Linked DNA regions of Homo sapiens. Changing the gene in region 1 together with any one later gene gives a genetic interaction. Each region holds a gene or a part of one and is shown in the gene's direction. Other genes may lie near its edges.

Region 1 (3,657 bases):
TATATTTAAAAGGAGTAAAATGAAGTGGCCACTGTTTTAGGATGGTCTGACCTTATCCCATTTTTATATTTAAGATATCTGGAAATCATGTTTTTGTATTAATAAAATGAAAAAGATTCGATAATGGCATGGTATTACCATCCAGTTCTAAAGTGGTTTAATTCTGTGATTTGAGTACAAAGGTATGCCAGACTTGGGAGAAATAACAGAGAAATAATACCTGTTATATTCCTGGTTTGTCTACAAGCATTCTAATTTTGTATTATACAAAATGGTTCTCTGGTCCCCATCTTCTAAGTGAAAATGAGCTCAGAAGGGCTAAATAACTTGCCCAAAGTCACATACCTAATAAAAGAACCATGATTCTAATGTGATACTATTTGACTCTAAAGTCCATGTATTTTCCCTAATATCACAGTGCTAAGTAAAGATTGCCAGTAATAAATACTTTTAATTCAGAGCAGCAAGAGATTACCATACTGGTTAAGAGTGACAAGAAGTTGAAAAGACAGTTTAAAATAAAGTTAAAGGGAAACATAGGAGTTAATGTAGGTAGAGAGAAAGGGAGAGAGCTGCACAAGAATGCCAGGACAATGGAGGGAAGGTGGGTAGAACATTCTAGTTGTAATGGAGAAGCTTTTCAAAGGAATCGAGAGAGGGAAAGTTGTGAGGACTGGATAGACCTCATCTCACATTCAGCATTGTTCAAAAGAGTTTGGAAATGTACAGTTTTTAAGCAGACAAGTCATACGATGAAAGCAGGACTTAGCTCCTGGTGGTAGTGTGCACAGTGGATTGGAGTAGGGAGAAACTGAAGTAAAAAGAATCCACCTTTATAATAAAGAAGGTTGGCATGTGGTAATGTCATTAGCAATAAGAAAGAAATGACAAAAGATACAAAAGAGACTACTCTAGAAGAATCAACAAACCTTGGTGACTGGATTTAGAAATCAAAGAACAGGGAGAAGTCAAAGGAGGTGCTAAGTAACGTTCTCAGTCCAGCTAACAGTGTCTTTAGTTATACATATGGAAAAGTGAAGAGCTTACTCATATCTTTATCTTCCCCAAAAGAGAAAACATGGGTAATTTAGGAAGATAAGCTGCTTTATTTTTAACTGCAGTGTGTTTTGAAAGAGACTATGTCATGATTCATCTTACTAGCCTCAAACATATCTTCTTTGCCAGGACTCGCCTCTGCACAAAGCCCTCTTTTGGGTAGCTGTGGCTGTGCTGCAGCTTGATGAGGTCAACTTGTATTCAGCAGGTACCGCACTTCTTGAACAAAACCTGCATACTTTAGATAGTCTCCGTATATTCAATGACAAGGTAAGCAAACTTTGCCTTGAGGTTCCTAGATTACTCAAATTTAGTACTCTTCCATCTTTTCTTGTTGCTATTCTTTTAAAATCACAAGAAGTCCATAACTTAAGTAGGAATTTGTATAATGTAACTTATTGTGAGTATATTTCCTTACCAGCTCATAAAGAACTATGTAAACTTGAATGCATATTTTTTACATAAAAATAGCAAAAAAAAAAAAACAAAAAAAAAACAGTACTGGCCTAATACTAGTAGAATTACAGAATAAGGATAAATAATACATGATCATCCTTACAGAATGAGCATAAACAATACATGGTAATAATATTAATAGCTACCATGCCAGGCCGTATGCTAAACACTATACATTTATTTTTAATTTTCATAACCTTAAGGTAAAGGTTAGCATTCTCTGCCCCCCATTTCACACGTGAAGAAATAATCTAAAAGTAATCTTAGTTTTACTTAATAATGCCACTTAATGAAAAATACGTATAATTCATAGTAGATAAGGAAGTTGGAGAGTCTAAAGGAAACTTTTGGGTACTTAATTTTACTAGTTTTTTTATTCTGTCTAATCTTACTTTAAAATATACCATTAGTGGCCAGGAGTGGTGGCTCATACCTGTAGTCCCAGCACTTTGGGAGGCCAAGACAGGTGGATCAGTTGAGCTCAGGAGTTAGAGAACAGCCTGGGCAACTTGCAAAACCCCATCTCTACAAAAAAGGCAAAAATTAGCTAGGCATGGTGGCATGCACCTACAATCCCAGCTACTCGGGAGGTGAGGTAGGAGGATTGCTTGAGCCTGGGAGGCAGAGGTTGCAGTGAGCTGAGATCACGCCACTGCACTCCAGCTTGGGCAACAGAGCAAGACCCTGTCTCCAAAAAAAAGTGTGTATACATATATTACATACACACATATATATGTAATGTATGTGTATATATATATATAAAGTGTGTGTGTGTGTGTGTGTGTGTGTACACACATAAAATATGTAAAATCCAACTCCAATTAAGGTTAATAAATGTTAGGAGGGGTGCTAATGGGGTGTGTGTGTGTGTGTGCACGTGTGCATGTGTGTGTGTATATATATATGAACATGGGCAAATTACTTCTTAGTTCCTTTCTAATTTGTAAAATGGAGATCTAATTGGGGTTGGATTTTAGTTCATAGAGAATAGAGGAGAGAATAAAATAGTATGAAATTACGTCCCTTTTGTCTTTGGATAAAAATGGGAAGGGTCTAGGAGAAAAGAGGGGAATGTTTTTAAAAGAATGTGTATATACAGTGAGATTTGCTTGAAGTGAAATTAACTGAACTGTGGGTACAAAGAACAGGATTATGGTTTTAAGTGTAAAAAGATACTTGGTCTAAACATTATTAGTTCAGTCTACCAGATGTAGTGTGAACCTGGAACAGATATGGGTCTGAAAAATATAGAAGCAAAATTTTAGAGGTAAGAGGTCTTATGGAGTTTATTAATCAGACCTCCATTTTGCAAATTAGAAAGGAACTAAGAAGTTAAGTAACTTGCCCATGCTTGTACATCTGTTTTGGGACTAGAACCCCTCTGTCCTAATTCTCATTGCCGTTTTTCTAAAACTGTTTTGGGACAGTGGTGGTCAGCGATATCTAGTTGTTGGCTATTTATATGTTAAGAATATTTGCAAATTGGCCGGGTGCAATGGCGCATGTTTGTAATTCCAGCACTCTGGGAGGCCGAGTTGGGAGGATCACTTGAGGTTAGGAGTTCGAGACCAGCCTGGCCAACATGGTGACACCCTGTCTCTACTAAAAATACAAAAATTAGCCAGGGTGGCACATGTTTGTAACTCCAGCGACCTGGGAGGCTGAGGTGGGAAGATCTCTTGAACCCAGGAGGTTGCAGTGAGCCAAGGTGGTGCCACTGCACTCCAGCCTGGGCGACAGAGTAAGACTCCATCTCAAAAAAAGAATATTTGCAAATGGAGCATTGCAAATGGGGCATCTGCCTCGGTATTTTCATCTTCAAAACAGCCCAGTAGCGGGAGCTAATATTGATTCTAGTGCCCTTTGGATGCTAGGCATCAGAGTTAATAAGCATGTTAAAAGTCACCGGGATGTAAATTGACAGTCATTTATTTTGTATTGTAAATAAAAGTGATTTCATCTTCCACCATCTTCTTATTTATATGCTTGACTGTCTTGCACCAGTTAATTTGTAGTAGCTAAAATGTTCTGTGGTTTTCTGCAGTCAACTGAAAATAATTTCTCTCAAATTGAAAGGATTACTTATCTTGTCATACTATTGAACACAAAATTAAGTGAGCCTTTAAAGAAAGCTACTGTGTGAAC
Region 2 (3,657 bases), 9.1 Mb from region 1:
ATTAACTAAAATATAGTACCATCCAAGAATTAACTTAAAATAACTGAAATAAGTTTTCAGCATTTTATTTGAGAGCAAGGCAGTTTATGATTGATATTGGTTTTCCTTTTTTTTTTTTTTTTTTTTGATGGAGTTTTGCTCTTATTGCCCAGTCTGGAGTGCAGTGGCATGATCTCGGCTCACCGCAACATCCACCTCCTGGGTTCAAGCAATTCTCCTGCCTCAGCCTCCAGAGTAGCTGGGATTACAGGCGCACACCACCACACCTGGCTAATTTTGTATTTTTTTTAGTAGAGATGGGGTTTCTGCATGTTGGTCAGGCTGGTCTCGAACTCCTGACCTCAAGTGATCTGCCTGCCTTAGCCTCCCAAAGTGCTGGGATTGCTGGGATTACAGGCGTGAGCCACTGCGCCCAGCCTGTTTTTATGTACTTTGTTGAGTGGGAACGAGATGTATAGATGATCCTCTTGAAAGGGGTATAATAGGCATGATGACTCACTCCTGTAATCCCAGCACTTTGGGAGGCCAAGGTGGGAGGATCAGTTGAGCCCAGGAGTAGTTTGAGACCAGCCTGGGCCATATAGTGAGACCCTCATCTCTACAAAAAATTTAAAAATTAGCCAGGTGTGGTGATGGACACCTGTAGTCCCAGCTATTCAGGAGGCTGAAGTGGGAGGATTGCTTGAGCCCAGGAGGTCAAGACTGCAGTAAGCTGTGATCCTGCCATTACACTGCAGCCTGGGTGACAGAGCGAGATGCTGTCTCAAAAAAGGAGTGGGAGTGGTGTATAATAATGTTTCCAGATTGTCCTTTTCTTTCCATTGGGCATAAATCATTTCCCTCTGTTTATCCTAACATTTTAAAATTTTGTATTTTTTCAACATTATCAGTGTCTATTCAGGTGTTGGAAAAGGTTTTTTTTTCCTCTTGACTCCTATTTCAGGAATGTCAGGAACTAAGCATGGTGGGAAATGTTCCTGCTGAATTTCAGAAGGTATATATGAAAAGTGCCAAAAAAATTGAGGGCTGGGTATGGTGGCTCACATCTATAACCCCAACACTTTGAGCAGTTCTCCTGCTTCAGCCTCCCAAGTAGCTGGAATCACAGGCATGCGCTACCATGCCTGGCTAATTTTTTTTATTTTTAGTAGAGACGGTTTCAACATGTTGGCCAGAACTCCTGGCCTCAAGTGATCTGCCCTCCTCAGCCTCCCAAAGTGCTGGGATTACAGGCACAGGCCACCGCGCCCAGCCTGAATATACATATTTTAGAAATAATAGTATTTAAATATTTTTAAATGTTAAGCATTCGTTTAATGTGTTGTAAAATACAATTTTCAATCTTTTTTTCTTAGGGAAAACAATTTAATTAGTATATGGAATAATGGAAAAGGTATTCCTGTTGTTGAACACAAAGTTGAAAAGATGTATGTCCCAGCTCTCATATTTGGACAGCTCCTAACTTCTAGTAACTATGATGATGATGAAAAGAAAGTGACAGGTAGAGTATTGAGGGGAAATAACATATTTGTTGCTAAAAATATATATATTTAAATGACTGTCTGTGGCATGAGGGTTAAAGATATGGAAATAAATCTCTATAATTGAATAGCTCTGCCAGTGATTAAGAAATAAAGCTGTCAATGAGATAGTAACAATAAAATAGTGTTTCATATTTATTTGCCCAGGTGGTCGAAATGGCTATGGAGCCAAATTGTGTAACATATTCAGTACCAAATTTACTGTGGAAACAGCCAGTAGAGAATACAAGAAAATGTTCAAACAGGCAAGTAAATAAGTGTCTTGTACCTTAATGATAAATGGTAGTAGTATAGCCATTTATAATGGCATTAATGATTGGTTTAATTTAACATAATTTATAAGCTATTGAAGTATGGAAAATTATAAGCATATATATTAGGTTATTAGGACTCATAAATTTATGTTATTTACTTCCAGTTTGTGAGATGACTTGAATTTTTCATGTTTCCTATTCTTTACTTCCATAGACATGGATGGATAATATGGGAAGAGCTGGTGAGATGGAACTCAAGCCCTTCAATGGAGAAGATTATACATGTATCACCTTTCAGCCTGATTTGTCTAAGTTTAAAATGCAAAGCCTGGACAAAGATATTGTTGCACTAATGGTCAGAAGAGCATATGATATTGCTGGATCCACCAAAGATGTCAAAGTCTTTCTTAATGGAAATAAACTGCCAGTGAGTATTTTCCTGGATGTTAAGGATAATAAGGGATTTTGTAATCATTGTCAAGTGCAAAATTGAATTTTTTCCCCTCCCATATGTTTTTGTTTGTTTGTTTGTTTGTTTGTTTGAGACAGAGTCTCACACTGTTGCCCGGGCTGGAGTGCAGTGGCACGATCTCGGCTCACCGCAACCTCCACCTCCCAGGTTCACGCAATTCTCCTGCCTCAGCCTCCCAAGTAGCTGGGATTACAGGTGCCTGCCACCACACCTGGCTAATTTTTTGTATTTTTAGTAGAGACAGGTTTCACTATGTTGGCCAGGCTGGTCTCGAACACCAGACCTCATGATCCACCCGTCTTGGCCTCCCAAAGTGCTGGGATTACAGGCATGAGCCACTGCACCTGGCCCAACCATATGTATTTTCTTACCACTTCTCACATATGTTCTTGAAAAGAGAATGGTATGCCACATTTTTTAATCAGCTCATTTTAAACTTACCGAAGGAATTTCTTTCTCAAAGAAACACCTAAAATAAATATTTCATGTCCTTTTTTTATTTTCCTTTTTCTTTCTTTTCTTGATAACCTCGCTGTGTCACCCAGGCTGGAGTACAGTGATGCAATCACGGCTCACTACAGCCTGGACCTCCCAGGCTCAAGCGATCATCCCACCTCAGCTTCTGGAGTAGCTGGAAATGCAGGCAGCACCACCATGCCCAGCTAATTTTTTTTTTTCTTTTTAATAGAGGTGGGGATCTCACTATGTTGCCCAGGGTGGTCTTGAACTCCTGGGCTCAAGTGATCCACCCACCTCGGCCTGTGTCCTTTAATGACCATTCCCTTATGCCTATCAGTGAACATCATTGCATTGGTTTTGGAAAGTCCTCATAGTCTATCATTGAACCTATTTTTTAATAACTTTCTTAATACTGTTACCTTTAATTCCTGTACAGGTAAAAGGATTTCGTAGTTATGTGGACATGTATTTGAAGGACAAGTTGGATGAAACTGGTAACTCCTTGAAAGTAATACATGAACAAGTAAACCACAGGTGGGAAGTGTGTTTAACTATGAGTGAAAAAGGCTTTCAGCAAATTAGCTTTGTCAACAGCATTGCTACATCCAAGGTAATTTTATTCTTAAATTATTAATCATGATTTATCTTTACATATATGTGTTCTTATTGTTTTTAATATATAAAGTGGACTTGAATATTGGGCTAGCTTAGTATAAAGGAGGTTAAATTAGTTTTTAATGTTTGATTATTATAATTTTGAGGATACTGAGTTTTACAGTTTGGTATTTTTCCTTATTAGGGTGGCAGACATGTTGATTATGTAGCTGATCAGATTGTGACTAAACTTGTTGATGTTGTGAAGAAGAAGAACAAGGGTGGTGTTGCAGTAAAAGCACATCAGGTATGTGCTTTTGGCAGTTTTCTTTTTCTA
Region 3 (2,493 bases), about 44 Mb from region 1:
GAGGCGGAGCGGCGCATCCGCGAGTGCGCCAAGCTGCAGCGGAGGCACCACGAACGCATGGAGCGGCGATACCGGCGCGAGCTGGCCGAGCGTTCCGACACCCTCAGCTTCTCCAGCCTCACGTCCAGCACCCTGAGCCGCCGGCTGCAGCATCTGGCGCTGGGCAGCCACCTGCCGTACTCTCAGGCCACGCTGCACGGCACGGCCAGGGGCAAGACCAAGATGCAGAAGAAGCTGGAGCGGCGCAAGCAGGGCGGCGAAGGCACCTTCAAGGTCTCCGAGGATGGGCGCAAGAGCGCCCGCTCGCTCTCGGGCCTGCAGCTGGGCAGCGACGTGATGTTCGTGCGCCAGGGCACCTACGCCAATCCCAAGGAGTGGGGCCGAGCCCCGCTCCGGGACATGTTCCTCTCGGACGAGGACAGCGTCTCCCGTGCCACGCTGGCGGCCGAGCCTGCCCACTCGGAGGTCAGCACCGACTCAGGCCACGACTCCCTGTTTACCCGCCCCGGCCTGGGCACCATGGTGTTCCGCAGAAATTACTTGAGCAGTGGGCTGCACGGACTGGGCCGCGAGGATGGGGGTCTGGATGGGGTGGGAGCGCCGCGGGGTCGGCTGCAGAGCTCCCCCAGCCTGGACGATGACAGCCTGGGCAGTGCCAACAGCCTGCAGGACCGCAGCTGTGGGGAGGAGCTGCCCTGGGATGAGCTCGATTTAGGCTTGGACGAGGACCTGGAGCCCGAGACTAGCCCGCTGGAGACCTTCCTGGCCTCTCTGCACATGGAGGACTTTGCCGCCCTCCTGCGGCAGGAGAAGATCGACCTCGAGGCTTTGATGCTGTGCTCTGACCTCGACCTCCGCAGCATCAGCGTCCCACTGGGGCCCCGAAAGAAGATCTTGGGGGCCGTGAGGAGGCGGCGGCAGGCGATGGAGCGCCCGCCGGCCCTGGAGGACACAGAGCTGTGAGTGTCCAGCCTGGCGGGGGGGATGGAGGAGCAGGAGTTGGAAGGCCCCTGGGGAGGGGGTACAGATCTGCCTATTCAGGAGTAGGGGGTGGGGGATACTGTATTTCATAAAATCGAAATGAGGCCATCGATGATAAAAGGCACCCTTATTTTATTTACCACCAGCTCAGAAAAAGAAGTGGCCAATTTAATGATGACCCGAGGCATTCTTATCACAGTGAAAGTGCACCTCGATTCTGGGGACATCGACAAGTGGGGAAATGGGCCTCTTAATGTCAATGAATTTCAACAGTCACAGGAATCACAGCTGGGGTGTTTTTGAGCCCTCCCACCTCCTAGGTGCTGGGTTGTGCCCTTGAACAAGTCCTCTTGCTTAATCCCTCTAAAAGCCTGTGTGCGCTGGACTATATTGGTGGATTATATCGTTCCCATTTTACAGCCAATGAGCAAGTGGAGGCTCAGACAGTTAGAATAGCTCACCTCAAGGTCCTGCTGCTGCTCAGCATGGAGCTAGGCTTGATCCCTGGTCTGCATGGCTTTAGAGCCTGGGGTCAAGGTGGCTGCCATGGGATGCAGGGCGTGCAGTCAGCAGGGCCTCTCAATTGCCCAAGACCTCAGGCAGATTTTTTTTTTTTTTTTTTTGAGACAGTTTCCCTCTTGTCATCCAGGCTGGAGTGCAGTGGCACAATCACTGTAACCTCCACCTCCCGGGTTCAAGCGATTCTCCTGCCTCAGCCTCCTGAGTAGCTGGGATTACAGGAGTGCACCACCATGCCCAGCTAATTTCTGTATTTTTAGTAGAGATGGGGTTTTGCCATGTTGGCCAGGCTGGTCTCGAACTCCTGACCTCAAGTGATCTGCCCACTCTGGCCTCCCAAAGTGCTGGGATTACAGGCGTGAGCCACCGCGCCTGGCCTTAGGGAGATGTTTTACCTACTGTTCCTGAACTTTGCAATCAGGAACGTGGGCAAATGCTCCCAAGAGGGTCAGCAGCAGCCCTGGAGGCAGAGTTCATGTTCCAAAGGCCGTCATAGTTGCCCAAGGCTGCCACCACAATGGTCATGCTGTGGCCAGCCCCTGCCCTGGCCCCTCCCCAATGGCATCCCACAGGCCCAACAAACTTTGTCCTCATTTCCTCTTAGGTATCTATGGCCGTTATCCTGAATGGCTGGGGCAGGGATGGGTGTGGGGAGGCAGGCTGGTTCAGAGTTTTGGGGATGGGGAGGTCACCCATAGGCTGGCGTCCCCCATCCCTGACAATTGGCCTGCCGAGAGATGGGGAGGCTAAGTTGTCCAGATGGCTGCCCTGGGTGAAAATGATGCCTCTGGAGGGCCTCATGTGAGATCTGTTTCTTTCTGTCTCTTCCTCCACAGATAACCGGGGGCTCCTCTCCCCAGACCAAAATGAATTGCAAGTTGCCACAACCTATGGTGGGGTCTCGAGGTCCTCACAGTTGCCAGCCCTGCAGCCCCCTTCCCCAGGAGCAAGGACCAGTTGGGGCGACTCCTTTGAAAGTCTGTCTGCACCTTG

What was found.
Region 2: changes in NF1 (region 1) and TOP2A are lethal when combined (synthetic lethality), as found in Homo sapiens cells (one large-scale study listed by BioGRID).
Region 3: changes in NF1 (region 1) and USH1G together harm fitness more than expected from each alone (negative genetic interaction), as found in Homo sapiens cells (one large-scale study listed by BioGRID).

What each region holds. Positions count from the first base shown.
Region 1 is NC_000017.11:31,339,320-31,342,976, forward strand, and holds part of NF1 (neurofibromin), read left to right. Parts: intron 1-1,185; coding exon 1,186-1,326; intron 1,327-3,657. UniProt on the Homo sapiens protein: Stimulates the GTPase activity of Ras. NF1 shows greater affinity for Ras GAP, but lower specific activity. May be a regulator of Ras activity.
Region 2 is NC_000017.11:40,411,324-40,414,980, reverse strand, and holds part of TOP2A (DNA topoisomerase 2-alpha), read left to right. Parts: intron 1-1,355; coding exon 1,356-1,501; intron 1,502-1,688; coding exon 1,689-1,786; intron 1,787-2,009; coding exon 2,010-2,222; intron 2,223-3,162; coding exon 3,163-3,336; intron 3,337-3,525; coding exon 3,526-3,627; intron 3,628-3,657. UniProt on the Homo sapiens protein: Key decatenating enzyme that alters DNA topology by binding to two double-stranded DNA molecules, generating a double-stranded break in one of the strands, passing the intact strand through the broken strand, and religating the broken strand.
Region 3 is NC_000017.11:74,917,920-74,920,412, reverse strand, and holds part of USH1G (pre-mRNA splicing regulator USH1G), read left to right. Parts: coding exon 1-959; intron 960-2,336; coding exon 2,337-2,340; 3' UTR 2,341-2,493. UniProt on the Homo sapiens protein: Plays a role in pre-mRNA splicing by regulating the release and transfer of U4/U6.U5 tri-small nuclear ribonucleoprotein (tri-snRNP) complexes from their assembly site in Cajal bodies to nuclear speckles, thereby contributing to the assembly of the pre-catalytic spliceosome on target pre-mRNAs.